6 separate regions of the Homo sapiens genome follow, and all the other regions are linked to region 6. Evidence: fine-mapped expression QTL. A gene starts in region 6. Each other region holds a variant in brackets. All regions are shown on one strand. Distances are from middle to middle.

What was found.
Region 1: its variant is fine-mapped to the expression of CEROX1 in whole blood (TOPMed, PIP above 0.99).
Region 2: its variant is fine-mapped to the expression of CEROX1 in aorta (GTEx, PIP above 0.99). The same link has a PIP of 0.9 or more in tibial artery.
Region 3: its variant is fine-mapped to the expression of CEROX1 in whole blood (TOPMed, PIP above 0.99).
Region 4: its variant is fine-mapped to the expression of CEROX1 in prefrontal cortex (CommonMind, PIP 0.95).
Region 5: its variant is fine-mapped to the expression of CEROX1 in whole blood (TOPMed, PIP above 0.99).

The regions. Positions count from the first base shown.
Region 1 is chr16:843,106-848,173 of GRCh38, reverse strand. No RefSeq gene overlaps it. Among named protein-coding and RNA genes, the nearest start is that of GNG13, 45 kb to the right of the region's middle. The variant G/A (reference allele first, on the strand shown) is at 2,568.
Region 2 is chr16:1,011,917-1,016,984 of GRCh38, reverse strand. No RefSeq gene overlaps it. Among named protein-coding and RNA genes, the nearest start is that of SOX8, 33 kb to the right of the region's middle. RefSeq lists a silencer at 2,428-2,629. The variant T/C (reference allele first, on the strand shown) is at 2,052.
Region 3 is chr16:920,238-925,305 of GRCh38, reverse strand. All of the region lies in intron 3 of LMF1 (lipase maturation factor 1), which reads left to right. It overlaps LMF1-AS1 (LMF1 antisense RNA 1), which reads right to left and starts at 4,273. Exons shown (of 2, transcript NR_110946.1): 1 at 4,139-4,273. The variant C/T (reference allele first, on the strand shown) is at 2,025.
Region 4 is chr16:813,234-818,291 of GRCh38, reverse strand. No RefSeq gene overlaps it. Among named protein-coding and RNA genes, the nearest start is that of GNG13, 15 kb to the right of the region's middle. RefSeq lists an enhancer at 652-1,152 and a silencer at 4,491-4,570. The variant C/T (reference allele first, on the strand shown) is at 2,552.
Region 5 is chr16:1,000,800-1,005,867 of GRCh38, reverse strand. No RefSeq gene overlaps it. Among named protein-coding and RNA genes, the nearest start is that of SOX8, 22 kb to the right of the region's middle. RefSeq lists enhancers at 1,609-1,658, 3,310-3,966. The variant C/T (reference allele first, on the strand shown) is at 2,051.
Region 6 is chr16:978,985-984,052 of GRCh38, reverse strand. It overlaps CEROX1 (cytoplasmic endogenous regulator of oxidative phosphorylation 1), which reads left to right and starts at 2,440. Exons shown (of 3, transcript NR_164343.1): 1 at 2,440-4,452; 2 at 4,943-5,028. It overlaps SOX8 (SRY-box transcription factor 8), which reads right to left and starts at 2,283. Exons shown (of 3, transcript NM_014587.5): 1 at 1,709-2,283; 2 at 93-325. The coding sequence starts at 2,130. It also overlaps a transcript of LMF1 not described here.

The DNA.
Region 1 (5,068 bases), 140 kb after region 6:
CAGGCTGCCCACCCAGCCCACACCCGGGCCCACCTGGCGCTTAGCAAATGGCCTTCCCACATCACGCTGGTGGCTTTCCGCACCACCCAGTGTTCACCTGGGCTCCCACACACCAGCAGGAGGCAGCAAGCAGGCACCTCCCTCCCATCTTGCTCCAAGCGCTGTGTGCGGGAGGGATGGAAACCTCCAGGCGCTGGGAAGAAGCACCCCAGGCACTAGGCAGGGGAAGGCTGGGGGGCCTCCGTGCCCACCCCCAGGTCTGAGCGCATTGGGGAACCCGGGGCACCGGGAGGGTTTGCGGACAGTGCCACCCTCCCTGCAGGGCTGCGGCCACCTTACTTTGCCTGGGCCGCCTGGCCAGGGGCCGCAGCTGACCCGCTGAGTCTGGGTTGGTGGCTCACCGTTCTAGGGTTTACACCTGACCCAGTGTGATCTATACCTGCCCAGGTCATACCACACTGTCCAAACTGTTACAGCTTTCAAACCAGCCCTGGACTGGCCGTCATAGCCGCCTTGATTGTCGTTGGCCCATTGCTGGAAGCAAGTTGGCGAAAGCTTCCGTCAGCTCTGACGGTTGGTGTGCAGACAGATGGCGGGCCGCAACATCCTTTCCTCCCCTCCCTGAGCCTCTTTTTCTCTTGGGTGGCAGGTGGGGCCATCTCCTCTGCCTCATCTTTTTCCTAACCTGGAAGTTGTTCCTTAAACACCTGCCCACGGTGGGCTACTGTGAAGCCCTTCACCCGCAGCCATGTGGACATGCTGGAGGAACATCAACAGACTCTCATCTGAACAACAAAAAAGAGGAAAGAACACTCAGCAAAGGAAAGAAGAGGCACTGAGCCAGGTCAGCACCCCGGGCCGCTGGGAGAAGGTACCTAGTCCAGATGATATGGGACACACAGGGGTTTACAGGAAACCGCGACACATTACAGACACGGGACACACACGGGTTTACAGGAAACCGGGACACATTACAGACACGGGACACACACAGCTTTACAGGAAACCAGGACCCATTACAGACACGGGACACACACGGGTTACAGGAAACCGGGACACATTACAGACACGGGACACACACGGGTTACAGGAAACCGGGACCCATTACAGACACGGGACACACACGGGTTACAGGAAACCGGGACACATTACAGACACGGGACACACACGGGTTACAGGAAACCGGGACCCATTACAGACACGGGACACACACGGGTTACAGGAAACCGGGACGCATTACAGACACGGGACACACACGGGTTACAGGAAACCGGGACGCATTACAGACACGGGACACACACGGGTTACAGGAAACCGCGACACATTACAGACACGGGACACACACGGGTTTACAGGAAACCGGGTCACATTACATACACGGGACACACACGGGTTACAGGAAACCGGGACCCATTACAGACACGGGACATACACGGGTTACAGGAAACCGGGACCCATTACAGACACGGGACACACACGGGTTTACAGGAAACCAGGACCCATTACAGACACGGGACACACACGGGTTACAGGAAACCGGGACGCATTACAGACACGGGACACACACGGGTTACAGGAAACCGGGACGCATTACAGACACGGGACATACGTGGGTTTACAGGAAACCGGGATCCATTACAGAACAACGTCAGTGAACCCCAAGCTGCAATGATCTAGCAAAAAGGTGAGAAAATACAAATAGCCAATATCAAGAAGAAAAGATATCACCACAAATCCACAGAGATGCTACAGGAATAATAAGGTAATATTATGAACAACTTTATTCTAATCAACTCAGCACCCTACATTAAATGAGAAACACTCCGTGAAAGGCACAGATTACTAAAACGAACGCTAGCCCAAACCCTAATCCTCTCCCTACAGCCGACGAAGAAAGAAAGCCCAAGAGTCCCATAATAATTGAAGAAACTGAATTTGGGCCGGGCGCAGTGGCTCACGCCTGTCATCCCAGCATTTTAGGAGGCCCAGGCAGGTGGATCACCTGAGGACAGGAGTTTGAGACCAGCCTGGCCAACATGGTGAAATCCCGTCTCTACCAAAAATACAAAAACTAGCCCCCATGATGGTGCACACCTGTAATCCCAGGTACTCGGGAGGCTGTGGCAGGAGAATCACTTGGACCCGGGAAGCAGAGGTTGCAGTGAGCGGAGATCGCACCATTGCACTCTAGCCTCGGTGACAGAGTGAGGCTCCATCTCAAAAAAAGAAAAAAGAAATTGAATTTGTAATTTAAAATTTTCCACAAAGAAAACTTGAGGCCAAGATGTGTTCACTGGCGAGTTCCATGCAATACTCGGTAGAGAAATAACACTGCCCTATCCAAGCTCTTCCAGAAAATGGAGGAGGAGAAGCCTCATACGCCCACCAGGACGGGAGGAGGCAGCCACTCTGGAGAAGTGTCAGTTCTGGAAACATGAAGCGTGAACTTCCTCAGGAAGCAGCCACTCCACTCCTAGGTATCTGCCCGAGAGACATGAAAGCACAAGGACGTGTAAGCAGCGTTTATAGCGGGTTGATTTACTGCAGCCAGGACCCGGGGTGGTGCC[G/A]GTGTCCGTCAGCAGGAGGACGGGTGAACCGGGTCATCTTGGAGCCATCGTCCTCAGAAACAGGCACATCCGGCTGTTGATACGCACAGCGTCGGACCCTCCAAGGCACCACGCTCAGCTAAAGAACACAGACGAAAGAGCTCACAGGGCGCAGCTCCACTCGCGGAACTGCAGGGAGGACCGCGGCCCAACTCCAGTGACAGACGCAGGCCCATGTTGCCGGGGCCGGAACGCAGGGAGATCTGGGAGAGGAATGTTCTGAATCTCAGCTGTGGTGCCGGGTGCCCTTGTCAGAAACCGTCGGTTACATTTAAATGGGTGCATTTTGTGTTTGGAAATCATGCCCGGCTCTCTGGATAAAGCCCTGATTTATGTGGTTTTGAATTTCTGTGATCTAAACACCGTGCCCGCCCCCATCTCCGATTCAAGCCCCCAACACGTCCTCACTCAGCACGGAGCTGGGCAGACGTGCACGACCGGCTCCCACCTGCTGGCACGAGCCCACCTCACCTTGGGGAGTTGATTTGTAAAATGAAATGAGCACAGAAACGTGTCAGCGCCAGGCTGGACCCAGCGAGCCGCCGATGCCAGCGAGATGCCAGGCTGGACTCAGCAAGCCGCCGATGCCAGCCAGACGCAGAGCAGAGAACGCTGGTCAAAGAGCAGCTAGGCGGTGTCTGCTCGGCCGAAGCCCAGTCCCGGAGAGGCAGGCTCTGTACCAGGACGTGGAGGCTCCGGGGTCATGAAACCCCCAGGGTGAGAGACAAAGGTAGTGAGTGGCCGTCCAGGGCAGAGGGGACGGAGGCAGCACGCGGACGGAGCCTCCGCACAGAGCGTCACGGCCACGACTGGAAAGCTCAGACACGTGTCACGAGCCCACAGCCCAGGTCAGAGGCGGCAGGATGGCGGGCGGCCCCATGCACAGAACTGCGGCCACGTGTGGAAGGCGACGGACACTGGCGGCACAGGGTCTACTGTGCTCTGGACCTGGTGGTGGCCACGCTGATGTTCACCCGTGGACATGTTGGAGCTCGCTGTCCACTGTGTGTGCTGCTTTGCGTGAGTTCCAATCCACGCGGAAACTATTATGATCAGAAAATCTCTCTAACTGTGGCGTGTGAGAGCCTCCAGTTCCGGGTGTTGTGCTGTTGTTTTGAGACGGAGTCTCACTCTGTCACCCAGGCTGGAGTGCAGTGGCGCCATCTGGGCTCACCACAGCCTCCGCCTCCCGGGTTCAAGTGATTCTCCTGTCACAGCCTCCAGAGTAGCTGGGAATACAGGCGCCCGCCACCACGCCCGGCTAATTTTTGTATTTTTAGTAGAGATGGGGTTTCACCATGTTGGCCAGGCTGGTCTCAAACTCATGATCTAGTAATCCACCTGCCTCGGCCTCCCAAAGTGGTAGGATTACAGGCGTGAGCCACTACGCCCGGCCTGGGCTGCACTTCTGAGTCCCTGAAGCTTCCACTGTGTTTATTATGAAGAGCTGAGCTGCGGTTTGTCCTCTAACATGTGTGCTAAGGAAGCGGGAGGAGACCCGGCTCCGGGCGGGGCCATTGTGGCTCCTGGCCTCTCTGCCTCTTCCATCCTATTTTGTTTCTGCTGATGGTCGACCCCGGGCAGCCTGAGCACAGCCACCCCGCCCCCCTGCATCCAGGTCACCGTGTCCCGAGCACAGCCGCCCCCCTGCATCCAGGTCACCGTGTCCACCCAGTGATGTGCTTCCCAGGCCGGACTTTTCTAAACTCAGCCTCTGAACCCACCACAGGCCGGACACACGGCGCCTTCCCCCAGCCCCACGGCTTCGAGAGCGCCCTGGCGAGTGCCTGTCCAGGAAACCTTGTTTTTTGTTTTTTTTTTTTGCGACGGAGTATCGCTCTGTCGCCCAGGCTGGAGTGCAGTGGCGCGATCTCGGCTCACTGCAAGCTCCACCTCCCAGGTTCACGCCATTCTCCTGCCTCAGCTTCCGGGGTAGCTGGGACTACAGGCGCCCGCCACCACACCCAGCTAATTTTTTGTACTTTTAGTAGAGACGGGGTTTCACCGTGTTAGCCAGGATGCTCTCAATCTCCTGACCTCATGATCCACCCACCTCGGCCTCCCAAAGTGCTGGGACTACAGGCGTGAGCCACCACGCCCGGCCCCAGGACACCTCGTTTTAAGGGCAGTGAAAGCCAGGAAAGCCACGGCCAGCAAGACCCAGCAAGACCCAGCAAGGCCCACGCCACCCTTGCTCCTGTCGAGGGGCCGGCGCCCGTTTGTCCTCAGGGAAGGTGGTCTTCGCCGCTGGCTCTGGTCAGGGCTGCATCTGGGCCACCAGGATGTTCAGTGCCAGCCCTGCAGCTGCGGGGCCTTCTGTGGTGGGCACGCATTTGCATCTCAATGACCCTGATTAATATTTAAGGAGCCAGCTGTCTGAGACACACGAAAAAAAGGGTGAAAAAAGCGCCTTGTTCCCTTAAAGGGCGGGCTCCAGGCTCTCCATCAGGTGGCCTCGTCTC
Region 2 (5,068 bases), 33 kb before region 6:
CGCCCAGCTAATTTTTTGTGTGTTTTTAGTAGAGACGGGGTTTCACTGCGTTAGCCAGGATGGTCTCATGATCCGCCCGCCTCGGCCTCCCAAAGTGCTGGGATAACAGGCGTGAGTCACCGTGCCTGGCCAAGGTTAGGTGATTTCTTTTGGGAGGTGATAAAATGTTCTAAAACGGATCATGCTTAGTTCGCACCACATGCTGGCATCCAAACATCTCATGTGCCCCATAAATATATATACCTACTGTGTATCCACAAAAATTAAAAATGAAATAAAATCGATGGTGATAATGGTTACACAATTCCAGCACATTTAGTGGGCGTGCTAAAATCATTGAGCCGTCCATTTTAAAATGGTGACTCTTATGTGAATTATGTCTGAGAAATAAAATTATGAAAAAATTAATAAAGAGCAAACAAGGAAAGAAAAAAAATGCCAAAGAAACTACAAAGTTCAGAGAGTGCCCAGAACCCTAAAGAGGCAGCCAGTGCCAGGGTGGGTCACACTCCACACAGAGCTTCCCGGCGGGCAAAGCAAAGATGGAAACACCCGCAGTATGGGGGGCTGTGGGGTACCATTTGTGGACGATTCACTCCGCTGAGTGTGCCCAGGTGTTTGTCAGGTGTCAACTTGGCTAATCCCAACAAGGTCCGGGCAGGAGGAGGGCTATGTAGATGGGGAAACTGAGGCAGGCCCAAGGTCACCAGTTGATACACGGCAGAAGCCAGACCAGCACCTCAGTGGTTGGGATTGGAGCCTTTGCTCCCAACCCTGTGAGGCCTCCCCACCTCGCCCACCTGCCTGCTTCAGGGTCTTATTCCCTAGAAGGCAGATGTCACCCCCGCAGGATGTCACCCCCTGCAGGGGCCACCACATGCCCCCTCTTTCCAACCCAGGGCCCTCTGCAGCCGGTTCTTTCTTTCTTTTTTTTTTTTTTGAGACAGATTCTCGCTCTGTTGCCCAGACTGGAGTGCAGTGGTGTGATCTTGGCTCACTGTCACCTCCACCTCCTGGTTTCAATATTCTCCTGCTTCAGCCTCCCGAGTAGCTGAGATTACAGGCACCTACCACCACGCCTGGCTAATTTTTGTATTTTTAGTAGAGACAGGGTTTCACCATGTTGGCCAGGCTGGTCTCGGACTCCCGACCTCAGGTGATCCACCCGCCTCGGCCTCCCAAAGTGCTGGGATTACAGGCTTGAGCCACCGCGCCTGGCCTGCAGCCTGCTCTTAAGTTCAAGGAGACGCCACTGTGGGTGACCTATCAGACCAGGCCTGCAGAGCTTGGGGAGAGGATTCAGGGATCATTGCAGCAGGAAGCTGGCCCTTTCCAACAACCACCACGACTAAAGTCTGAAAAATATTTGAAGCCACAAGGATTTTATGAACACGAGGGCCAGGAATGGGTCTGGGCGCTTGTTGGTGCCCTGGCTGGAGAGACCCCAGTCTCCCATGAAGGCTGTATAGAGCAGAAGCACGCGACCTGTGGGTCTGGGCACACGGCTGTCTCTCTGAGGCCAGCTGCTGGAGGAGGCCTGTCCCTGGGTGGACATCAGCAGGAGGAGTGGGCTTCAAGTGACCACAGTTCCCAGGGCCAGCCCCGCACGGAGGCCCCTCAGACCCACAGCTCAAAGCAGAAGGGCCCGGGGTCCTCAGCCAAGACCCCTGCTCCCAGGACGGCTGCGCCCACCCCTGTGAGTGCAGCTCCGCCCTGTCCACCGCCCTGTCCGCCTCTTGTCGGCTCTTCTGGAAACCTCTGCAGTGGACTCGACACAATCCTGAAACACCAGCATCCCCGGGGCCTGCAGGAATGTGCTCCTGCCGGGTGAGCTGGCTTAGACTGGGCGACAAGAGTTCTGTGTGTGTGTGTGCGTGTGTGTGTCTGGGGGTGGGACTGAGGCCTGGGGACTATCTCAGCAGTGCTGGGGCTCTAGGGATCCATGGGAAACAGTGGGCTGAGTGTGCTCTATGTTCTGCTGCAGGCTCTGAGGGCTACAGGCCTTGCCTACCCTGGCATGAGCTGCTGGCCTGCCCTCTGCTCTGAGCAGA[T/C]GTGGGGGTGGGTGGCATCTGGCCACGGAGAGTGGGCCAGGCCCAACACACGCAGCCCAGACCTCTGTCCCGGGGCAGCCTCCCAGGAGGAGCCACCTCCAGCCCTCGCCACGTCACCTCCGGCGTCAGGACTGGCCAGGCCACATCCTCTCCAGACCTGGCCGTCCTTCGCTGCAACCTCGGAGAAGCCACTCTCCTCCTCACCGGCAGCACCTGCCCTGGGGACCCCTTCGTCCCACTCACCTCCAGCCTGGCTGGGACAGGGAGACGACTCTGGGCCAGGGGAACTGGCCCTCCCGGCACAGGCCCTGCTCAGGGCTGGGAGGGAGGCATGGCTCTGTTCTCCCTTTGGTGAACAAGGAAGCCGGCCTCGGGCACTGAGTCCTCCAGCAGGGCAGGCTGGCCAGACAGATGGGCAGGTGGACCCATGGAGGCCACAGCCCCCACTGTAGGAGGCCCCCTCGGCCAGCATCAGAGAACAAGTCCACCCCACTCCACGGACTGGAAGACCGAGACTCACAGGGGCCCGGGGCCACCCCTCAGAAGCCCACACACAGAGCCCAGCCCCACAGACACAGCTCACCCACTCAGCTCACAGGACTGAGCCTAGGATGGGCAGAGGGGACCTGGAAACCCACCCCAGCCCCAGCCCCGCCAACACCTCCTACCTGGAGGCTGCAACGAGAACTGTCAGGGCAGGAGGGGGGCTGCAGGCGCTGGGGCCGTAAATCAGGGCTCCCAGCAACCCCCAGGCCTGGAGGAATTCCAGGCCCCTCCACCGTTTCCTCCCAGCCAGAAGGGGTGTCCTGGGCCCACAACTCGGCTCCCTCCCCGTAGTGGGTACAGAGTGGATCATGAGCTTTCCTGGGCGAGGTCCCCTAAACCAATTCTCTCTCCCCTCTCCTCTCAGCCATCCCAGCTACAGGGAGGACACCGAGGCCAGGAAGGGGGGCGCGTCCATTGCCCCCCAGCTGCATGACGCAGAGTTGGACCCACGTCCAGGGCATGCCTCCGGGTGCAGCTGCTCTAAGCCCAGAGCACTGTGGCCTCTGGAGCACCACCAGTCTCCACAGCCCACTGGCCTGCCCCTGGGTCACCCCAGGCCCCGCCCAGGCCCCCTGGCAGCCTCTGCCTGCCCAAGATCCGCCACCACCCTCCACAGCACCGTGGCCTCCGGAGCACGGTCCGATGCAGGTGGAGGAGGCGCTCCCAGCCCTGGCAGCTACAGCCCCTCCCCAGCCACCAGCCTGGGCCAGGAGCTCCTGTCAAGAGCTGGACACCTGTCCTGGGTTGGTCCTGCCTCACCCAGCGCCCAGCCAGCTCCTCCTCAATGCCACCAGCCCAGCCCAGGACAGAGCTGAGCAAGCAGATGCTCAGGACCAGCCGGAGGGGCCACTTAGGCGGGCAGAACGCAGGGGCCAAGGAGCACCACAGGAAGATCCCAGCCCCGCTGGCGATGGGCACCTGCGTGCAGGCAGAGGGCAGCACATGGAACAGCAACACAGGCCTGCAACAGGACGCAGTGAGGGGGCGCAGGGCTGCACAGTGGTACACGTGTGTGTCCTGTGTGTGCACATGTGTGTCCTGTGTGTGCATGGGTGTGTCCTCCATGTGCACGGGTGTGTCCTGGGTGTGCACTCGTGTGTCCTGGGTGTGCACGTGTGTGTCCTATGTGTGCACTCGTGTGTCCTGGGTGCACACACGTGTGTCCTGTGTGTGCACGTGTCCTGGGTGTGCGTGCATGTGTCCTGGGTGTGCACGCATGTGTCCTGGGTGTGCACACGTGTGTCCTGCGTGTGCGCATGTGTGTCCTGGGTGTGCATCTGACTGGGGGCACCTGTGGGTTTCATCCCCCACCCCAGCCTGCCCCCAGGTCACACCAGGCTCTCCAGGCCCCCAACAGCCTCTGCCCACCTGAGGCCAAGCAACCCCGCAGGTGTCCTGCCCTGCTTACTCCCAGACCAGCCCCACCTCTGCAACCACCCCCCGGGGTCTCAGCCAACAGGAGGTTCCAGTCCCACAAGTTTCAGGAACCACCTGCGGCCAGTATGGGGCTGAGGGTTGGACCCTCGGCCTCACCCTGTCAGGCGCCCCCGCCTGCTCTTTGACATGGGGAGGGCACACAGGTGGGGGCACAGCCCGGTGAGTCCTCCGGACCCTGGGCAGAGGGGCAGGATGCAGGGGCAGAATGCTGACCCCCATCAGCAGCCACCAGGATGGTGTCCTGAGCCTGAGGGTCCCAGGCTCTCATGGCCCTTCCCCGTGCTCCACAGCACTCCAGCCGCCTGCCTAGTCCATGTGGGTCCCAGAGGAGCTGCTGGGCTCTGGAATCATCTTGGGAAAGGCAGGCAGAGGCTGGCCGAGGGTGGGGTAATTCCTGCCTTCCTGGGAATGGGGACAGCCTCAGGGGAGCCCTGGAGATGGATTTTCCCCGATTTACCCAGCTCCCCAGCTCCTCCCAGCAAGATGCTGGGGTGTGGGCTGCTGTGAGACTCCCCATCCCGCGGACCCTGCCTGCCTGCCTTCAGGGTCCCCTGAGTGTTACTAAACAGAGGGGCAAAGCGTGGCCCCCAACGCCCTGAAAGGGAGCCCGCGCTGCGGCCCCAGTGCGGAATCAGGTGCTCAGATCGTTCTGCCGGAGCCTCCACGTCTCTTCCAATGTGCACAGGAAGGGACCCCGGCAGTGTCTCAAACCTGCCATGGGGAGTCTCCTTTCAAAGTAGACTCGAAGCTGAGGGTGACTTGGAAGAATATCGGGCGGACAGGACCACGGTGGCCCGAGGTCCTGCGGGCAGGCTGAGTGTTGGCCGGAGGTAATTCGGGCCTGAAGGTCTCTGTCCCTCCTGCACTGAGCTGTGTGCTGCCCTCTGGGTGGGGCAGCAAGGAAGAGGCGCCCCTGTCGCCCGGGTGCTCCTGCTCACACCAGGGAAAGGGGCAGAGACAGAGAGGGCCCCTCTGTGGTCTGACCCCACCGGAGGAGATGGTCTCCTGGACGCCAAGGCAGGCCACACACGACG
Region 3 (5,068 bases), 59 kb after region 6:
AAGAAGTGTTTTGTTGCTGTGATTCATACTTCCAGTGCTGAATCCACTTGAGTGGCTTTAATCTAGAATCTTCAACGTGGCTTTTTAATTGTTTTTAACTGTATGGATGCAGGATGTTTGGTGGCATCTGCTCTTCATTCCTAGTGGATTAGTGACAGTGACAGTGAGCAAGGGGCTTCCTGTGTGGCTGAAGAGGGCGGTTTCGTCACCACCCATTCCGCAGGGGGCAGCTCAGCCCAGCAGGCATTTGGGGACTCGCACCCAGCACTCTGCGGACGGGGGTCTGACTGCACCCGCTCCTCCCCTCCACCCCCCGCTGCCGGCTGGAGGGCACAGTCTGTGCGGTGGCCTTGCCACCCCCTAGCAGGTCTGCATCCGTTCTCCCGCCTGGGCCTCAATACTTGTTTCCTCCTTTTCCTCACTCTCCCTTGCCTAAACCGCCATAGATCATCCCCTTTATGGGTCTTTTCAAAGAGCTGGTTTTATCTATCAGAATTTTAAAATATACTCTAGCTCATTCGTTTTTGCCTCTTGTAGTTGCTTGCTTTTTCTGGGAGAAAGTGGTTTATCATTTCCAGTGCCTGGAGTTGGTTCAGCTATTTTCTGTCTCTTCTTCTCTGCTAATGAAAGCCAACTGGAGGGCGGCTACCCACTTCTGGGTATGTCCCTGCCCTACCCTGTCATCTGAGACCCCCGGCTGCCCCTGACAGTGGCCGATGGTGTGGTTTTATAACCTTCAGCGCTAATGCCTCTAGACCAAGGACAGCCTGGAGAAATGCTTCGAAAATGCCACATGCTCAGGGTTTTACAGGTGGCCTTTTGTTTCTCAACTTTGATTTTATTACACTGTGGCCAGTGTGGCCTGAAGATTGTTCTTTTAATTATTAAAAAAAAATGGGCATGTGCATGAATAGTCAAATTGTATTACACGACTTATAATAAAAACAGAAGCCCTTGCCGTACCACTTCTCAGCCACATGCTGTTCTCCAGACAACCCTTTTATCACTTCCTGCACTTAACTCTGGTATTTGTCTGTCTTTCTGACTGATAGGTTTATATGGGTTATTCTTCGCATACCACGGTTAGACACTGTGTATACATGTCCTCTTATGAACGACAGGGATTGCCCTCACACACCCTAATGTTCTTCTCATCATCATCAGTATAGCTGTGTCACAAGTATAATTTTTATTAGTTTGATTGTCTTTACATTATTTTGACTCTGTAAATATTGTGACTGCTGAGCCAAATAGTGAACTATAGTAACTTTTTTTCTAATAACTCTTCATTTTTCCTGGAGTTCATAGTTGCCTTTTCTATTTTGATTGGCTTCGTTTTTCATCTCTGATCATATCTCACTCATTTGTTCCAACTTTACCAGCACAACTGGTCAACCCTTTCCAATACTGTTGTTTTTACAGAATCAAACACATTGGACAATCCATCAGTTTTTTCTCTCCACTTTGTGAAGATTTCCGCTCAGGACCTCATTGTTACTGCTTGGAGCAGATGCTTTGTAGGCCTCTGGATTTGGAGATTGTGGGGCAGGTTAACTCTGCCAGATTGGGGGCCACTGATGAGTTTGTCCCTCTGCCCATTCCAGGGATCCTAAGATGGTTCCCAGGAGCAGGTGACCTCATTGTATTGAGGGTAAGGCTCAGAGTCCACAGCCCCTCCTCCACGTCCTTCTAAAGCAGTGCTCTTAGGGAGGATTTCTCTTTTTTAGAGCTGGGATCTTGCTCTGTTGCTCAGGCTAGTCTCAACCTACTGGGCTCAAGCTGTGCTGCCACCTCAGCCTCCTGAGTAGCCGGGACTATTGGCTTCCCTGAGAAGCCTGATGCTTTAGTGGGGAAGGTGTTTAGAGACCAAGACGTGGGTGCTGGGGTGCCCGTTACTACTGGGGTGCTGCAGCTTCTCAGCCCCTCAGCCGGCAGAGTTAGGAAATACATGGCTGTTCAGGAAGCCACGCAATGGGGAGGAATGAACTGTGGACAGCTGGGGACCCTCGTAGGCCACAGTGCAC[C/T]GTGCCAGTGTTAGCAGCTGCCACATCCGCCCCACACTCCTTGCCCCTGCTGTTTTGCCATGACGCAGATCCCAGGCATCACATTCCTGCATTTGGAAATGCCTCCTCGTACACCTGAAGACAGGCCTTTGCAACAACACGACGCCAACACCACATCACACCCGAAAACCCAGGCGACTTTCACACAGGGCCTTCGCAACAACACGACACCAACACCACATCACACCCGAAAACCCAGGCGACCTTCACACAGGGCCTTCGCAACAACACGACACCAACACCACATCACACCCGAAAACCCAGGCGACCTTCACACAGGGCCTTCGCAACAACACGACACCAACACCACATCACACCCGAAAACCCCGGCGACTTTCACACAGGGCCTTCGCAACAACACGACACCAACACCACATCACACCCGAAAACCGAGGCGACTTTCACACAGGGCCTTCGCAACAACACGACGCCAACACCACATCACACCCGAAAACCCAGGCGACTTTCACACAGGGCCTTCGCAACAACACGACGCCAACACCACATCACACCCGAAAACCCAGGCGACTTTCACACAGGGCCTTCGCAACAACACGACACCAATACCACATCACACCCGAAAACCCAGGCGACTTTCACACAGGGCCTTCGCAACAACACGCACCAACACCACATCACACCAGAAAACCGAGGCGACTTTCAGACAGGGCCTTCGCAACAACACGACACCAACACCACATCACACCCAAAAACCGAGGCGACTTTCTTCACGTCCATGTTAGTAATGCCTTTTCTCAGCTGTTTGTCCACACAAGGGCTGGCCACGTTAGGTGGACGCCCGTGTGCTGTCTCCCTGCTTCAGGTCCTGCTGGATCAGTTCCCCAGTGGCCGCTCTGCCTGCCATTCTGCCTACCTGGCTACCAGTCGCTGTGGGCTGGGGGTGAGAGCTCACAGCTGGATCAGAACCCCCTCTGTGGCCCCCCTCGGGAGGTGGCTGCCTTCTCCCACCTTGCATCGGAGGCGAGATTGTGCAGGGACCAGAGGCTGCCCTGGTCTGCCTGTGAGAAAGCCCCTGGGTGGTTGCTGCCAAGGAGCATGGCTGGGCCTGCGAGACAGGGTGCCCCGATCTGCCTGGAAGTTTTCTGTCCAGGCCGCCCTCCCTCATCGCCTCTGTCCCGTGTTGGCTGCTTGGAATGCGTCTCTCTGGACCTCATCTGGGATAAACAGCTGCTTCTCTCCCCTTACTCCTCAGCTGTGGGGGAACGCTGGTTTCCAGGCCCACTCACAGGATTTTTAATGTTCCGCCCAGACCTTGCTAACACCTCTCAGCGGCTAAGCCTATTTCTGTAGATTCTCTTACTTATGTTTTGTTTTTAAATTTTCTATGTAGTCAATCTTTTTTACATTTCAAACCTTTTAACCTTTGTTTTTCTCCTAAGAATTGTATAGTAAAACCCGCACGGGGACCGCCTGGATGCCGTAGGTTCTGTTCACGGGGTTTGCTGCGTTGTTACGTAGTGGGTCTCCTCGCCCGTGTCCCCCGTCCCTGCGTCGGTGCTTCAGCGCACATCAGGGTGGGGCTGGTGTCAATGCTTCCCACATCATTAGCTGGAACTCACCGCACACTGCGTCTTTCCCTCCATAAAGAACTTGCACGAGCCCCATCAAGGTATAGGGAGTGGCCGTCACCCCAGAAAGTCCCGTCATCCCCACTCGTCACCGCCCGCATTTGTACAGAGATACAGCTGTCTTGTTCTAAGGGCGAGTCCCTGTGAGAACGCGTGGAGCGTTTTGTCCCTGCCCCCACACACTCCGCCGGGGGGTTTGGCTTTGTGCCGGTGCCTGGCTGGCGGGTGAACTTTCCACAGGGCCTGCCTTGTCCACGTCTCTGCAGGGAGCGCAGGTCCGTGTGCCCACCCAGGAGGTCTTGGACCCAGCAGCCCCTCAAGAAGGGCTATGGCGACTGTTCACCGCAGGAGGGCTCTGCGCTGTCTGAAAAGGGGAACAGAATGCCCCAGTGGAAGCAGATTTGCAGGTGATATTAGGGAAGCTTCCTCCTGCCTTCTACTTACCTGGACTTCTTATCCTCCAAGGCGCTTGACTCACAGTCTTACCTCCTTGAGTTGCCTCCAGAAGAAAATGGTCTTTGTTTTACTGAGTTCCTTCTAAGCGCAGTCTGTGATGGGGCCCGTTCTGTCCTGTCCTCGCCCTGCTGAGCACTGAGACAGAGACCCAGGCGACCTGCTGACCGAGGCCAGCTCACGAGCCTGCTCTGGGCCACGTGGTGCCGAGTTGCTTCCTCCTTCAGGCTCTGATGACACTGAAGCTCCCCGGGGAGAACAGCGGTGTCCTTTGCTGCTGGAGATGCCTGCAGATGCTTGCTCTGGGCATGCAGGGGCCCCTGGGGAAGGATCCGCGCCTGGCTCCCTCTCTCCATCTGTCCCTCGTTTTGGACGGGAAGTCGACTATCATTCCTGACGTTCCAGTGTAACGTGTTATGTTTCTCTGATGGCTTTGGGGATTTTATCTTCCGTTGCCAGTTTCTTGACTATGATATGCCTACTTTTTACCAAATTTGGATAATTTTTGCCAATATTTGGGGGGGTTGCCCCATGTTCTTTCTCCTCTCCTGTGGCTCCACGGACATGGACATCAGGCCTCTCCCTGCCTTCCACGAGCTCCTGGGCCCTGTGCTTCTGTGTGGTGTTTTCTAAAAGCCTCTCATCTCTAGAATGAGTCACTGTGGCTGCTATGTCTTCGTGTTCACTGCCTTTTCTTTCGTTCTTCACTCTGCTGCTGAGCTCAGCCAGGGGCATTTGTGCTCTGGAGATTTTAGTTCTTGCTCTGGAGTGGGCCTGGCCTTCCTCCGAGGCTCTGTGTCTCTGCTCAGCTCTCCAGCCCGCCTGCCTGGCAAGCACGTTTTCCTGTGCTTTCCGGTCCTGATGCTTTCCTGCGTCCGTGTGGAGCCAGCGCTTGGGGTGTGGTGTGTAGAGAGGGGAATGTGGACATGCAGTGCGTGCTGTGGGGGCTGACGGGCTGGGGCC
Region 4 (5,058 bases), 170 kb after region 6:
GGGCAGTGGCTCACACCTATAATCCTAGCACTTTGGGAGGCCAAGGAGGGCATGAGCTCAGGAGTTTGAGACTAGCCTGGGCAGCATGGTGAAACCCCATCTCCACTTAAAATACAAAATTAGCCGGGTGTGGGGCAGGCGCCTGTAGTCCCAGCCACTCAGGAGGCTGAGGCAGGAGAATCACTTGAACTCGGGAGGCAGAGGTTGCAGTGAGCCGAGATCACGCCACTGCACTCCAGCCTGGGATAAAAAAGCGAAACAGTCTCAAAAAAAAAAAAAAAAAAAAAAAACGGGGAGGTCTGGCTCATGTCACTCACCCGCAGCTGGAGCACCCCCGAGGAGCCCCACTCAACAGTGGCTTCTCTGAAGATGAGCCACAGAAGTTCAGTTCCTGGGGAGCAGGGCTGGTTCTTTCCTGCTTTTAATGCTATAGGAAACCTCGGCTGCTGGGGAGGCTGCGGGCGAGGGGCCGCAGACAGGCCGAGGGTCTGCAGGAAGCCGCGAGTCGACAGGAGAGAGGGGATGAGAGGCGCGCTGAGCAAAGGCGGCGAGAAACGCTGCCGTCACCTCCTGCCCGGGCCCCGTGGGGCCGCCCGGCCGCCGCCACGCAGACGTGGTGTGTAAAACCGTGGGTCAGCCCGCGTCTGCTGGTCGCCGGGGAGCAGAGGCTCGTTAAGACCGTCTGTTAAAAGCCAGCGGCTTCCATCGTCACTCAGCTAAAAACGTGTCAGTGGAGAGCGGAGCCAAACGTGCTTTTTCTAGGGGAGGAAACAGGCTTTTCACACACCGGCTGTCGCCAGGACCAGGTAGGTGTGAGGGCCTGGCGGGCGATGGTGGGTGGCAAGGGGATGGCCGGCAGTGGCGCCAAAGCGTTGCGTCTTGCCAGAGCCTCCCTCCTCGCCTCCCGGTCAGATCCTCACCCTCCCTCGCCACCGCGCGCCTGCAGCCGCACTCGCCCCTCCCAGCCTTGGCCGGAGCGTCCTCCAAGGTGCGGTGCGAGGCAGCAGACAGAGTCCCCATGCCAGCCACCCTCCCCTTCTCGCTCCGTCTTGCCAGGCGACTCCGAGTCTTCAGCGGCAGAACGTGGTCCTCCCTTCGGGGTCCCTGAGCTGCAATGCAGCCGCTTGAGGCTGGGGACGGCTCCAAGGAGCCCCCAGTCACCAAGAAGCAGCCTCCAGAAAGGCCGCTGCGGGTTCCGGGGAAAGGCGGCCTGAACGTGCATTCCCGTGAGACTGCCTGGAGGGGCGAGCTCTGCTGCGGGGCAGGGGGTGCCTGATGTGGGCTGAGGCCTGTGCAGAGAAGCCAAGAGGACACCTGGACCCTCCGCCGAGTCCAGCCACCAGAGACCCAGAGCCCCCCACGAAAGCAGAGCCTCGGGCCGGGCCCTGTGGCTCACGCCTGTAATCCCAGCACTATGGGAGCCCGAGGCGGGAGGATCACGAGGTCAGGAGACTGAGACCATCCTGGCTGACACGGTGAAACCTCATCTCTAATAAATATACAAAAAATTAGCCGGGCGTGGTGGTGGGCGCCTGTAGTCCCAGCTACTCGGGAGGCTGAGGCAGGAGAATGGCGTGAACCTGGGAGGCGGAGCTTGCAGTGAGAGGAGATCGCACCACTGCACTCCAGCCTGGGTGACAGAGCGAGACTCCGTCTCAAAAAAAAAAAAAAAAAAAAAAGAAAGCACAGCCTCTGCTCCCTGCTGAGGAGGCCCCAGGCCAGGGGAGGGGGGCTGCCCCACGTGTTCCCGCTGGGTAGACCCCTGCCCCCACCCACAACAAATGGGGCACAGCAGGTGTGGAGGGGGCAGCCTTCTGCACCCCTCCTGGTGCTCAGCTCTCTCCCGGGACCCCTGCACCTCCCAAGGGCACCAGGCCTCCCCTGGCCCCGTGCCTTGTTGGCTTCCAGGCCTGACCCTACGTGACCTCTTCTCTGGGGTTCCCCTCACCTCCTCCCAGTGCCAGGGGAGGGACACGGGTGCCTACAGGGAAGGTGACAGGTCCCTTCTAGCCTCGAGAAAAGTATGGTAAGCCCCGGTTGAGGGACCTTCTAGGAAATCCCGACCTTCCTCCTCAAAACCGCCCAGACCACCAAAACCAAGGGAAGTCCAAGAAATGGCCACAGCCCAGGGGGGTTCACAGCCCAGGGGTGCTCAGGCAGCCAGACGGGAACTGTCCCAGGATGGGGAAAGGCCCCTCGGTGAAGGCCGAGGACTCCGGTAAACTGCGTCGATCCTGGTTCACGCCAGTGTGGGGTGTCACCTCCACGGGACCCTGCGGGGAGGGCACAGATGGGGGCTCGGCTCTGTCTCCTCAGTGTTTCAGAAAACCCACAGCTGCCCAAAAGAAAACCTGTTATTTGTTTAAAGTACTAAGATTCCTGTCATCCCAGCACTTTGCGAGGCCAAGGCAGGAGGATCGCTTGAGACCAGAAGTTTAAGACCACCCTAGGCAACATACTGAGCCCTCGTCTCTATCAAAAAAAAAAAAAAAAAACATTAAAAAATTAGCCAGGCACGGTGGTACCCACCTGTGGTCTCAGGAGACTGGGG[C/T]AGGAGGATCACTAGAGCCCAGGAGAGGTCAAGGCTGCAGTGAGCTAGGATGGCGCCAGTGCACTCTGGCCTGGGTGACTAAGGGAGGCCCTGTCTCAAAAAAATACATTTTTTGGCTGGGTGTGGTGACTCACACCTGTAATCCCAGCACTTCCAGAGGCTGAGGCAGATGGATTACTTGAGGTCAGGAGTTCAATACCAGTCTGGCCAACATGGTGAAACCCCATCTCTACTAAAAATACAAAAATTAGGCGAGCGTGCTGGCAGGCGCCTGTAATCCCAGCTACTCGGGAGGCTGAGGCAGAAGAATTGCTTGAACCCAGGAGGCAGAGGTTGCAGTGAGCCGAGATCACACCACTGCACTCCAGCCTGGGTGACAGAGCAAGACTTTGTCTCAAAAAAAACTTTTTAAGGTAGCACGATTCACCCATAATGACATCAGCCCAGCATTTCCACCAACCTCAAAAGAGAAGAGACGGGCCTGGCTGAGCCCCAGCAGCCCACGTGCCACACTCCGAGTTTCTGCACAGCCTGGCTGTACTCGCGGGCCCCCATCTCGGCCCCACTTCTCCTCAGCTGCTTCTGGGGTTTCTGTGAGTAATTCCCCAACAATTCGGACCTCAGTGACTCTGGACTGAGGAGTCTCACCTCCCAGAGTGACTGTGGTTATAAATAGGATTTTCTCAAGCTGGTTTCTACTCTGAAAACTGTAATAACATATGTCTGATCCTCGTCTTCAACAAAAAGATTTAAAAGCAGCAAAGCATGGCCAGGCATGGTGGCTCACGCCTGTAATCCCAGCACTCTGGGAGGCCAAGGCAGGTGGATCACTTGAGATCAGGAATTCAAGACCAGCCTGGCCAACATGGTGAAACCCCATCTCTACTACAGATACAAAAAATTAGCCCGGCGTGGTGCCGGACGCCTGTAATCCCAGCTACTCGGGAGGCTGAGGCAGGAGAATCGCTTGAACCCGGGAGGCGAAGGTTGCAGTGAGCCGAGATTGTGCCACACTGTACTCCAGCCTGGGCAACAGAGCAAGACTCCATCTCTGAATGAATGAAGCAAAGCAACGTTGGTAAAGACCCCACAACAGGCATCTGGCGGCTGTGTCCAGACCATGCTTCTCAAAGGGGACCCAGAAAGCTTCCAGGGTCCCCGAGGTCAAACCTGTTTTCCTGACACTTCTAAGAACGGTTTCCTTCCCATTCTTATTATTTTTTTTTTGAGACTGTGTCTCGCTCTGTTGCCCAGGCTGGAGTGCGATGGCATATGGCATAGTCTCGGCTCCATGCAACCTCCACCTCCAGGGCTCAAGTGATTCTGGTGCCTCAGCCTCCGGAGTAGCTCGGATTACAGGCGTCCGCCACCACGCCTGGCTACATTTTTGCATTTTAGTAGACATGGGGTTTCACCATGTTGCCCAGGGTGGTCTCAAACTCCCGCCCTGAGGTGATCAGCCCACCTCGGCCTCCCCAGGTGCTGGGATTACAGGCCTGAGCCGCTGCGCCCGGCCTCCTTCCCACTCTCCTGAAAGTGTGGGGCGGAATGTTCCGGAGGCCACCGGCTTGCAAGCAGACGCAGACATGAGAATCCAGCACAAAGTCACGCCTTCTTTTTCTTCCCACTACATTTTTTTTTTATGGGGAAACAGTTGCTTTTCCTTAAAATGCTATGTTCACGTGCAATGGATTTATTGCTATTTTTACGTGAAAAGGTGAACATTTTTAAATGCTCTGTTTCTGGTAGAGTGAATGTCCACAGCGGCCGCCCACGTAAACAAAAGCCCGAATGGTTTTAGGATTGTGAAGGGTCCTGGGAGCCGGGCTGGGCCAGCGTTGGGTGAGGATCCTTCCGGAACCCGGGGTCACGGGGACGATCACACGGACCTGTGGCTCCACCCGGTGGTGACGGCGAGGACGGCGGGAGACCCCAGCGGGCAGGAGCGCGGCCCGAACCGCGCGGCCCCGGGGATCCGCCCAGGGCAGGCAGGCAGGGGTGCCCCGGGCGCTGGGGGTTCGGGGCTGGCCGTCCTCCGCGGCGGGGCGGTCCTGCGGGTCGCAGGGTCCTGGGCGGCCTCCCCGGGCTCCACCAGCCAGATGCCTGCGGCAACACCAGCGGAGATCACAGACGTCTCCAGATGCCGGCCAGCGTCCCCCGGGGGCAGAAGCGCCCAACCCCGTGAGAGCTGCCCAGTCCACAACACAGACAGGACGGTGCCGAGGGAGGCGTCAGCACGGAGCAAAACATTCGCACATGATGGCCGAGAGCTCCGGGCACTTGCTCCACCTCCACTCCGTCCCACAGGGGCTCCAAGCCGGCCGCTCCCCACCATGGGAGTCGGGGTGGACCCAGGGATGGGGAGGCCGTGTCGGTCCGGCGTCCTTGCCGGTCCCGCAGCAATAGCAGAGGGGATGTCTGTGCGGTCGCCGCCCACGGCAGCATCTGCAGGGTCAGCGGCGCAGGAGGGGTTCAGGCCTGGGCGCTCCCTGGGGGTCTCGGCCTCT
Region 5 (5,068 bases), 22 kb before region 6:
TCAGGGGAGATATTTCTGCATGAAATACATCCCGTGGCAGGGCCTTGCTCTGAAGCAAAAATGAAGGCAGTAAATTCTGAGGAGGGATTTGTTTAACCTGTCACCTTGCGGCAAAGTGTGGCCCTGCCTGTCCTGACATACTCTCCTGTGTTTTTATAACACTTGGCTCGGCCACCGTGGAGGCTGGAAGAAAATCTGCCAATCGGGTGTTGCGGGGAGGGTTCACTCCTCTCCAGACAGAAGGAGCGCCAAGTCCTCCTGGGTCTACACCACACATCCATCTGCCCATTTTCCATTCACTCACTTGTTCACACCCACCTCCCTCGCTAGCCTTGCGGGGGTTGCTGGACAGGACCACAAAAGCTGGTGCCCAGCTCCGTCCCCAGCACGCCTGCCCCGACACGGTGAGGGGCTTTGTAACACGCCCAGCTCTGTCGCTCCAGACCCTGGGTGCACAGCTGAAGGAAGAAGAAGGAATCAGACACTTTGCCACACTCCAAGCTCCCCAACCCCAGCACAGGAGGCCTGCACAGGGAATGAGCTCTCTGTCTTAGGAGGTAAGCAAGAAGCTGAAAAGTCCTTGGGTTCAGGATGCTGTGGAGAGAGCCAGCTGGGCTAGGTGAACCTGGGGCCTCTACAGGAACACCCCCATCTCTTGTCCCTCTGTCCCCTCCCCCCATCTCTACCCCCTCCCCCGTCTCTTCTCCCTCTGTCCCCTCCCCCATCCCTGCTCCCTCTGTCCCCTCCCCCATTTCTACCCCCTCCCCCATCTCTGCTCCCTCTGTCCCCTCCCCCATCTCTACCCCCTCCCCTTCTCTTCTCCCTCTGTCCCCTCCCCCATCTCTACCCCCTCCCCCTTCTCTTCTCCCTCTGTCCCCTCCCCCATCTCTACACCCTCCCCTGTCTCTGCTCCCTCTGTCCCCTCCCTCATCTCTACCCCCTCCCCCATCTCTGCTCCCTCTGTCCCCTCCCCCATCTCTACCCCCTCCCCCGTCTCTTCTCCCTCCCCATCTGTTTTTTTTTTTTTTCTCGAGATAGGGTCTCACTCTGTCGCCCAGGCTGGAGTGCAGCGGTGTGATCTTGGCTCACTGCAGCCTCTGCCTCCTGGGCCCCAGTGATCCTCCTACCTCAGCCTCCTGATTGGCTGGGACTGCAAGTACACACCACCATGCCCAGCTAATTTTTGTATTTTTTGTAGAGATGGGGTCTTGCCATGTTGCCAGGCTGGTCTTGAACTCCTGAGATCAAGCAATTCACCCATCTCAGTTTCCCAAAGTGCTGGGATTACAGGCATGAGCCACGGCGCCCAGCCCCCATCTCTTCTCACTCCCCCATCTCTGCCCCCTCCCCGCCTGCGTGTCTGTGTGGATACCCGGCTCCAGGGGTCTCTCTGGACAGCCTCCTGGGGCACCCCACATGCTCCCCGCACCATGGGCAAGGCTGGAGCCACCTTCCCTGAATCAATACTGACCCAGGCCCAGGAGTGGGGCTGGGGCTGGGGCTGGGGCCAGGCTTGCTGGTCACTCCTGTGCCTGCCGTGCTCCGGGCTTGGAGACGCATGTGAAGGGTGGGAAATCGCCTGGGCCTCCTCACAGGGCGCTCACGTTCACCTTGGGAAAAATAACAGGTTTTGGTTTTGTTTTCTTTTTCTTTTTCTTAACCACAAAACACTCATCAATGGTTCTGAGGGGGCAGGAAACCTCAGGACTGAGTGTTGTCAGGAAATTGAGCTCCCGGGGCCACACGCGGGGCCGGCACGAGCCAGGGCGGCACATTCCAGAAGGCTGCTCCGTCAGTGCCACCCACTGCCCTATGTGCTTCATGCCCAGGGGGTCCACACAGGGCAGCAGAGGGTCCTCGGGCCAGGACAGTGGACGACCTCAGGGGGTAGAGCCCTCCAGACCCCTGAGGGGCCTTCGGGCTGGTCCCTCTGTGCCTGCCGTGGACCTTGCCTCCTCCTCTAAGGGCAGCAGCCTGTGGGGTCGCAGCCCCCCGTGTCCCTCCTCTAAGGACAGCAGCCTGTGGGGTCGCAGCCCCCCGTGTCCCTCCT[C/T]TAAGGCTTCAACCAGTGCACCTTGGGGGCCTGAGTTCAGCCCAGGTCAGATTCCGCCTCTGATGGGCCCTGGCTCGTGAGGCCTGATGCCGCCACGACCGCGTGCCGAGGGCTTTCCAGGGCGTCCCCTTGTGCCGTGTCCAGGCTGCCATCAGAGGAGTGCAGGGCATGAGGGGCTCTGGGCTTTTCCCAGGAAAGCAGCTGGCAGCCATCCACCCCTTCCCGGGACCACCACCGGGCTCCTGGCCAGCAGGACCTGCGCAGGCCTCTTCCGTCAGAGCAGCACTTTCCACAAAGCCTGGACACTGTCTGGCGTGGGGCTGTGGGGCCGCATGCTGTGTGCAGGAGTGGGTGTGAGCGAGGCCCATGAGGGGGCTGTGGCAGCAGGTGGGGCCCGGCCGCGTGAGTGCAGGGTCTCTGGACCCCGCACGGTTCCTCATTTGGAGCTCAGTCCCTGGACACGGCCACTCCATGGGGCTGCCAGGATGCCCCCCAGACCACGGCCATGGTGCTGGAGGCTAGGGACCCCTCCTGTGGCCTCTATAGCTCCCTCTCCACCCAGCACCCCCTCCCCATCACTCCATGCCAGCTGCAGGGAAGGCCCCCGGGTCTCTCAACCCACACCTTGGCCCAGCCCTGGCTCCAGGATCCCACCCCAGGGGCCCACTCTGCCACGGGACTTTCGTTTTTCCAAACTTAGAGCCGCCCCTGGCCAGCGGGGGCCGAGCCTGCGTCCACTGCTTGGCAGAGGAAATGTCTGCACTTCAGGCCTGTCCCGTGCCCTGGATGAACACCAGCCCTGGGCACTGCCCTCCGCCGTGGGAGGCCACTGTGGTCTTGAGGCTTCTGGGGAAAGGTCAGGCTTGTCTTTAAGCGACGCGATGCCGGTGGCCTGGATGAGTCACCCCCGAACGTGAGTCATCTCAGCTGCTGGGAATCTTCCAATTGTTTGATTGAGGTGAGATCCACATGGCGTAGAATTAGCCGTTCACGGCATGGGGTGCTGTGGCATCCAGCGGGGCCGCAGTATCTTGCAGCCACCTCCCCACGCCCTGCATGTCGTTCTGGGGCAATTTCATCCGGAAGGAAACCCCTCGCCCCTCGGCCGTCCCCCCAGTCCAGCTCTTGCGTCTGCGGACCTCCCTTTCTGGCATTTCCGCAGATGGAATCGCAGGTGGCCTCTCAGGCCTGGCCTCTTCTGCTCGGCGTGTGTCGAGTCCTTCCCTGCGGTGGCTGAGCCGAGGCTGCCCCTTTTCATGGCTCACGTTCCGCGGTATGGATGAGCCACGTCCGTGGGTTCCTTCACCCGGGGAGGGACATCGGGGCTGCGGCAGGTGCACATGTGCGGGTCCCTTCACCGGGGAGGGACATCAGACTGCGGTTGCACAGGTGCACAGATGTGGGGTGCCACAGACCCACGGTCTTGCTTGGTTTACCTGTGTGAGCCCTCAGGTCACCACCAGGAATCCAGCGTCTCTCCCCTCCAAAGATTCAGTGGAGCCTCAGGGAGCCCAGAAGGGGGCTGGGCCTCCCTCCTGCCACATCTCCAGTTCCAAGGGACCCTGAACTGTGCCCAGGTGACAGGGCCCTCAGAGCAAGGGACTGTCCACCACGTGGCTCACTGCCAAGAGCTCCTGGAGGTGCCAGCATTCCGCTGGGCCAGGAGGGCAGCAGCGGCGGATCTGAGCTACAGTTTGGACGGACCCCTCAGGCAGCAGAAGCCCCTCGGAGGCCCAGGGGAGAACTCCACGCCCCCACCCCTGGGGCTCCCTGGAAAGGCACCGAAGGAAAAAATGTTCCTGAAAAACTAAACAAGTGAATTCAGAAGCTCAGGTGTCAGAGCTGGGGCCCCATGACGGGCCAGGGACAGCCATCGGCCCCTCCGTGGACACCCAGGGTTCCCTGGAGGAGAAATCATACAGGGCAGGTGGTGAGAACTTGAACTTCACCTCCACGGTGGCTTCCTCACGGGGCGATGTGAGGCTTGGGTGAGGTGACGCGGCATGTTTCAGGCTGAACGGTGGCCACAGCTGACCCTGGGAATCTGTGACTCTGGCTTGGTTGGGAAATGGAGTCTTTGCAGATGTAATTGATCAAAAGATCTTGCAGTGGGGTCATCCTGGGTTATCTGGGTGGGACCTAAATCCAGCGATGAGTGTCCTCATAGAAGCAGAGGAGGAGACAGACATGCAGAGGAGACAGCCGCGTGAAGCCGGGACAGAGGTTGGAGCGATGTGGCCACAAGCCAAGGGACACCTGGAGCCACCAGGAGCTGGAATAGGCAGGAAGGATCTTCCTCTGGAGTCTCATTGGGGAGCGTGGCCCTGCCCAAGCCTTGATCTCAGACTTTTGGCCTGCAGACCTGTGAGAGGACAGGTTTGTTTTCTAAACCACTCGGCTCATGGCACTTTACTTGGGCAGCCATGTGGCACTGCCACACCCCCGCAGCCAGGCCCTCAGCTCCAGGCATCTGGAGCTGCCTACCCCGCGGTAAATGCTGAGCTGAGGAGGCATCTCCAAGCCACCTGGGCCCCAGCTCTGGGAGGCCCTCAGCACTCCAGCCAGGTGCTCATAGCTGCCGTGTCCCGGGGGCACCGAGGCAGGGCCCTACCCCACTGAATGGGAGGGGCAGCACCTCCAGACCCGAAAGGCCAGCGCCTGGGGAGCTGAACAGGGGAGACCCACCGTCCACACGTCTGCCTGGGACTCTCCTGGCTTTAGCCCTGAACATCCCTCAGCTTGGGGACCCCTGGGCCTAACCCCGACAGGCTGATCCTCCAGTGGATACTCCGCAACCTCCAGGCTTCACTTCGCAGCCCCCATATCTGCCCCTCACACCCAGCAGTTTTTCCTAGAGGCGCCACTGGGCAGCCTGCACGTCGGGGCCCAGGATGCCGTGGCCAGCAGTGGTTGGGATTTCACGGACTTTAGACAGCTGCCAGTGTCAGGGTCCCGGGGGCTTTTCCCGGCCGCCACCCCCCCCCGCCAAATGGAGCCATCAGCTCCCTCTCCCCAGTC
Region 6 (5,068 bases):
CCCCTCCACCATCATGCACCCTTCTCAGCCAGAAACCCCACAGCTGCCTCCCATACAGGGACCCTCAGATATGCGGGGGGCCTGGAGCCCACCTGTGTGGTCGCCATGGTGGTGCCCATCTCCAAGCCCTGCTTCAGCCTTGTACACGGCACCGCCGCCAGGGTGGGGTCCCAGCTCCGCGCCCGAGTCGGAGTCGCTGTGGCCGGCTTTGGCGCTCTTCCTGCGCCGTGGCTGGTACTTGTAGTCGGGGTGGTCCTTCTTGTGCTGCACGCGAAGGCGCTCTGCCTCCTCCACGAAGGGCCGCTTCTCGCTCTCGCTCAGCAAGCTGCAGCACAGGGCAGAGGCAGGGATGGCCAGGGCGCCCACTGTGCCCTCGGCGCAGGCACACACCACAGGGGGAACCGGCAGCAGAGGCCGGGGCCAGGAGGCTCTGACCAGGGAAACCCGCCTGCCGTGCGCTCCGGAGCCTCCCGTGGCACCAGGCAGTACACTCCTCTGGGAGAACCGGCCGGCGCCTGTTTGGGAAGGTTGGTATGCTTACGACAGCCAAAGAAGAACAAGCCCCACGCCTCCCATCTTCCTCCTTCTATTTCCCCCTATTCCGGGCCTGCTGTTCCCTCCCTCTGGGGCTTTCTAAGGGAGGCGGGGGAGGCGGGCAGGACCCAGCCGGCGGTGGACAAAAGCGAGGCTTCCCGGGAACGGTGCCGGCCTTCGGCGGGCAGCTGGGCTGCTGTCCCTCCATTCCCAGACACCCAGAAGCCCTGGCAGGGCCCAGGCGCCCGTCCTCACTGAGCCACAGGACACACTCCTTGGGACTCTTCCCGAGGCTCACCTCCAACCGCCTGTGCGGCAGGACTTGGGGGAGCAGGGGCCTGCCGTCCACAGCGCCCCGTGGCTGCGCCCTAGATCCAGACAGAAGGCAGGAGGTGCAAATACGCAAGCTCCAAGCTCCCTTCTTCCAGGTGAGGAGCAGGATACGGGAACCAGAGCCCCAAACCAAGAGAACCATTTGAAACCCAACCAGAGGACACTCGGTGGGGGCGGCCTGTCCTGAGCAACAAGTTCTTCACTCTGCAGTCCTAATTTCTGGAAAACTGACCGGCCCCACCACGCCAAGGCGTGCACACGGCGCACCCCGTCATCTCCACTCCTGCCCTCCCTGCTTCGGACCGAGGGTGTCCAGGAGAGGGAGAAACTGCGGGGAGGGTACTCGCAGGCAAACCTGCTGCCCACCCATCCGCCTGCCGCACTCCCTCCCCATGGGTGGTCCAGGAGCTAGAGGAGCTGAGCCCTTTCTAAGGAGGGAGCACCTCCAGAGAGCCGCATGCAACTTGCTGTCGTGCCGGGCGTGCCTCCCGGGGCTGGGGCCACTCGCAACGGCTGGAGGGCACGTCGGGGTGCCAGCCATGGCCCTCCGCAGGGTGTTCCCCGCCAGGAGAACTGGCTCCAGAGCGCACCCGCCACGAGGGTGCACACCCCAGGCGCTGCCCTCCGCGGATCCCGACTCCCATAGCTGGCGCCGGACCCCGGCTGGCCAGAGGATGTTTTTCCACTGGGACCCGCCCTGACACCCGCCCGGGGTGCAGAGCCCGGAGCCTGCGTGTGGCCACCACCTCCGCGAGCTCTGCGCCCTCCAGGCCCCCGCTCGCAGTCCGAGACCAGGGGCGGCCAAGGTCCCGAACCCCGCCCCCGGGGCGCCGGCACTCACCGCCACAGCTTGCCCAGCGTCTTGCTGAGCTCGGCGTTGTGCAGGTGCGGGTACTGGTCGGCCAGCTTGCGGCGCGCCGCCTGCGCCCACACCATGAATGCGTTCATGGGCCGCTTCACATGCGGCTTGGCTTTGAGCGCGCCGCCGCCGCCGCCGCGCACCGGCATGGGCACCAGACTCCAGTCGTAGCCCTTGAGCACCTGCGACACGGCGTCGCGGATGCAGGCCGGGAAGCGCTCGTCCGCCGCCTCCGCCGGGTCGCCCCGGGCGCCCCCCACCGCGACCCCCGCGCGGCCCAGGCCCTCGGAGCCGGCGGGAGACGGCGGCGCGTCCGAGTCCGAGTCCTCCACGTGCGACATGGAGCTGGCGGTGCCGGACGGGCTGCAGGGCGGCTGGGAGCGGGCCTCGCTCATGTCCAGCATCGGGGCCGCGCGCGGAGGGGCGCGCACAGGAGACGCGCACCGGGGCCGGCGCCCGGGGCTGCCCTGCGGTCGCTCCGGGACCCGAGGTCGCCGCGCGGTGGCCCCGACCCTCGCCCCTGCCGCCGCCGCCGCCGCCGCCGAGGCTCGGGTCCCGCTGCGGGACCCGCAACAAGTTTCTTTAAGCGGCGGCCCCGCGGCCCCGCCCCGCGCCCGGCTACCCATTGGCGGAGCGCGCCCCGATCCCCCGGAGGCGGAGCCCGGCCGCCCCCGCCCCCCCACCCATAAAGAAAGCTCCGCGGCTCTCGCCGCGCCCCCGCCTGCCCCGCCCGGCGCCGCACCACGTGGGCCAGGCGCCCCACGCCTGGAGCTCCCCTCTCTGGAGCCCCGGGAAAGGAAGCGGGGCAGGGAGGCCGGGTGGGAGCAGGGGGGTCTCCGGCGCTTCCTCTCCTCTGCGGGCGCCGCGCGGCTCCTGAGAGTCCGCCCCCCGTCCTGACGCTCAGCTAGGAAGCGGGTCCTCGGGCCCCTCCCCCGACACACACACACACACACACACACACACACACACACACACACACTCTCTCTCTCTCTCTCTCTCTCTCTCTCTCTCTCTCTCTCTCTCACACACACACACACACACACAGCCCGTCTCGCGCCTGAGGTCTCGCCCGCAGGCCGGTGGCGCGGGGTCAGCTGCTGCCTGCGGTCCAGGACAGGGTCGGTTCCGCCGCGCAGCGCCCAGGCCCAGCTCGTCCAGAGTCTGCGGACAGCGCACGTCCAGGTAACGCGCTTCAAGGGGCCGCGGCTCGGAGCTGGGGGACCCCGGGCCGCCCTGCCCATACGAGTGCGAGCGTGGAGAGCGCGGGCGGGGGCGCGGTCCCGGGGGCCGGCCAGCTGGAGGGGGCGGGAGCGCTGGGCGGGGCCTGCGCTGACCCCGGCGCTGAGTCCCTGGGGCCGCCGGGCGGATGGCGTGGCCGGACGCGGGGGCCCCGGGCCTTCCGGGCGTGACCTAGGGCTCGGGGGCGGGGAGGCCCCTCCGGCGGGGCGGCCCTGGGTGGTCCGGCAGAGGCGGAGGCCGCTCCGAGCCTGTGAGCCCTGGGCGCCTGCGGAGGCGGGGAGAGGGCGGGGTGTGCCGCCCTGGTGGGGACCGCGGGGTCGGAGAGGGGACATTGCCCCCCCCGAGGCGAACGTCCAACCGCGGGTCCGGGTCCCCGCCCAAGGCCGCCCCGCGAGGTGGCCTCGGCCCGGCCGTCCCCGAGGGTGGCTCGGATCCTTTCAACCAGCGCGCTGGAGGCGAAGGGGCTGCGCCATTCCGGGTCAGGCAGCCAACGCGGGACACGCGCGTCTCCGAGCTTGCGGCCCGCGAAACCCGGGTGACCTACCGCGCCGGTGCCCTCAAAGCCCCCACGCCCGGGCCGGTGGCCGCTGCAGCCACTGAGCCACGCGGTCTCCCCGGCCCGGTCGGCAGAAGGAGCTGGTCCGTTACTAGAAAAGTCCAGATGCAAAGTCGGGGGTCGTGCTGCCGCTTCCTGCCAGCGCACCGCACCCACCTGGGGCCGCCACCGACCGCACAGGACGCGCCTCCTACCCCCTGTTCTGGCCCGGCCGAGAGCTGGTGCCCCCAGCGGCCGCCCGCCCCCGTCCGCAGACCCCGGGGCCCTTGCTGCTTTGCATTGGGAACAACCGGAGCCAGGCCCGGAGCTGAGGGGGCCAGGGCCTTTGGAGGAAGCATTGGCCTCCAGGCTGAAGAGCAAGGGCCGTGTCACCTGCCCGGAGGGCGGTCTCATCTCTGCAGCCAGGTCAGAGGAAGCAGCGGTGGGGAGACGGAGTGCGCGAGTTGGGAGGCTCCACGCATCGTAGGTGGAGAGCTGGCTGCCAGCCTGGCCTGCCCTCTCTTCCCCGTCCCACCATCTCGCTTGGCTCCGGCACCTGCCTGGGAAGACCCACACCTCCGTCTGCAGTGCCTCTTCCCCCTGGAGGCCCTGCCCTCCGCTCGGGGTCCCCGCATCCTTCCGTGGCCCTCAGAGCATCGCCTGGGGCGCCCGCGGAACTCATCTGTTAGGCCTGGGATGCAGGCAGGCAGAAGTGGGGGTTTAAGTGGAAGCAGTGAGGGTGGGGGTCCGGTCCAAACTGTGCCACCTTCCACCCCCTGCCCCTGGGAGAGCAGACATCGCCCACTCGGGCTCACAGTGCCATCCGGGTGAGGACCTCCGTGGAGAGCTCTCTTTGCCAAAGAAAAGCAGTTGCATTAGGTCTGCGAGCAGGCAGGGTGGCCTCTTCCTGGCTCCCCATCCACCAAGGAAGCTTCAAGTCCCTGGGACACAGGTGGGGAACTCCAGCACCCCTGGAGGAAGGGAGACTGAGGTTGGGGAGTGGCATCCAGGCCCTGACTCTGGGGCACGGTGGTCTGTGCAACTGAGACCCTGCCTCAGGCTCCAACAGCGCCTGCTCCTTTCCCCAGGTTGCAGTGATCACCAGGGGAGGTGCTGGGCGTGCAGGCTGCCACAGGAGGGGTGGGGAGGTGGGGAGTCTCTGTGGCGGGGTGGTGGGGGCCTAGGCCAGTCAGCTGAGGACGTGTTGGTGCACTCCCGGGAGGGCGGTATGTGGGTGAGGATCCCCATGCAGAGTGGTGCCCACAAACCCCCCTTCCAGAGTCATCTCTGGTCCACCTTGAAGTCCCCAGGAAAATGACCTCGTCCTCCGCGGGTGTGAGCCACTAGGCCTGAGAGGACGCCGGGACGGAGCTTTCAGAGAGGGAGGTGTCGGGATGGCTTGAGGGTCACCAGGTATTAATTAAGCACTTGCTGTGTGCCAGGCACTTTCCCACACAGGATGGAGCCGGGCCACCCTCACAGCTCCTGCCCTGCAGACGCTGGCCTTGTGGAGGGAGGCAGGCAGCAGGTAACTCCAAAAGCACCTCTCAGAGGCGGGGACTTCAGGA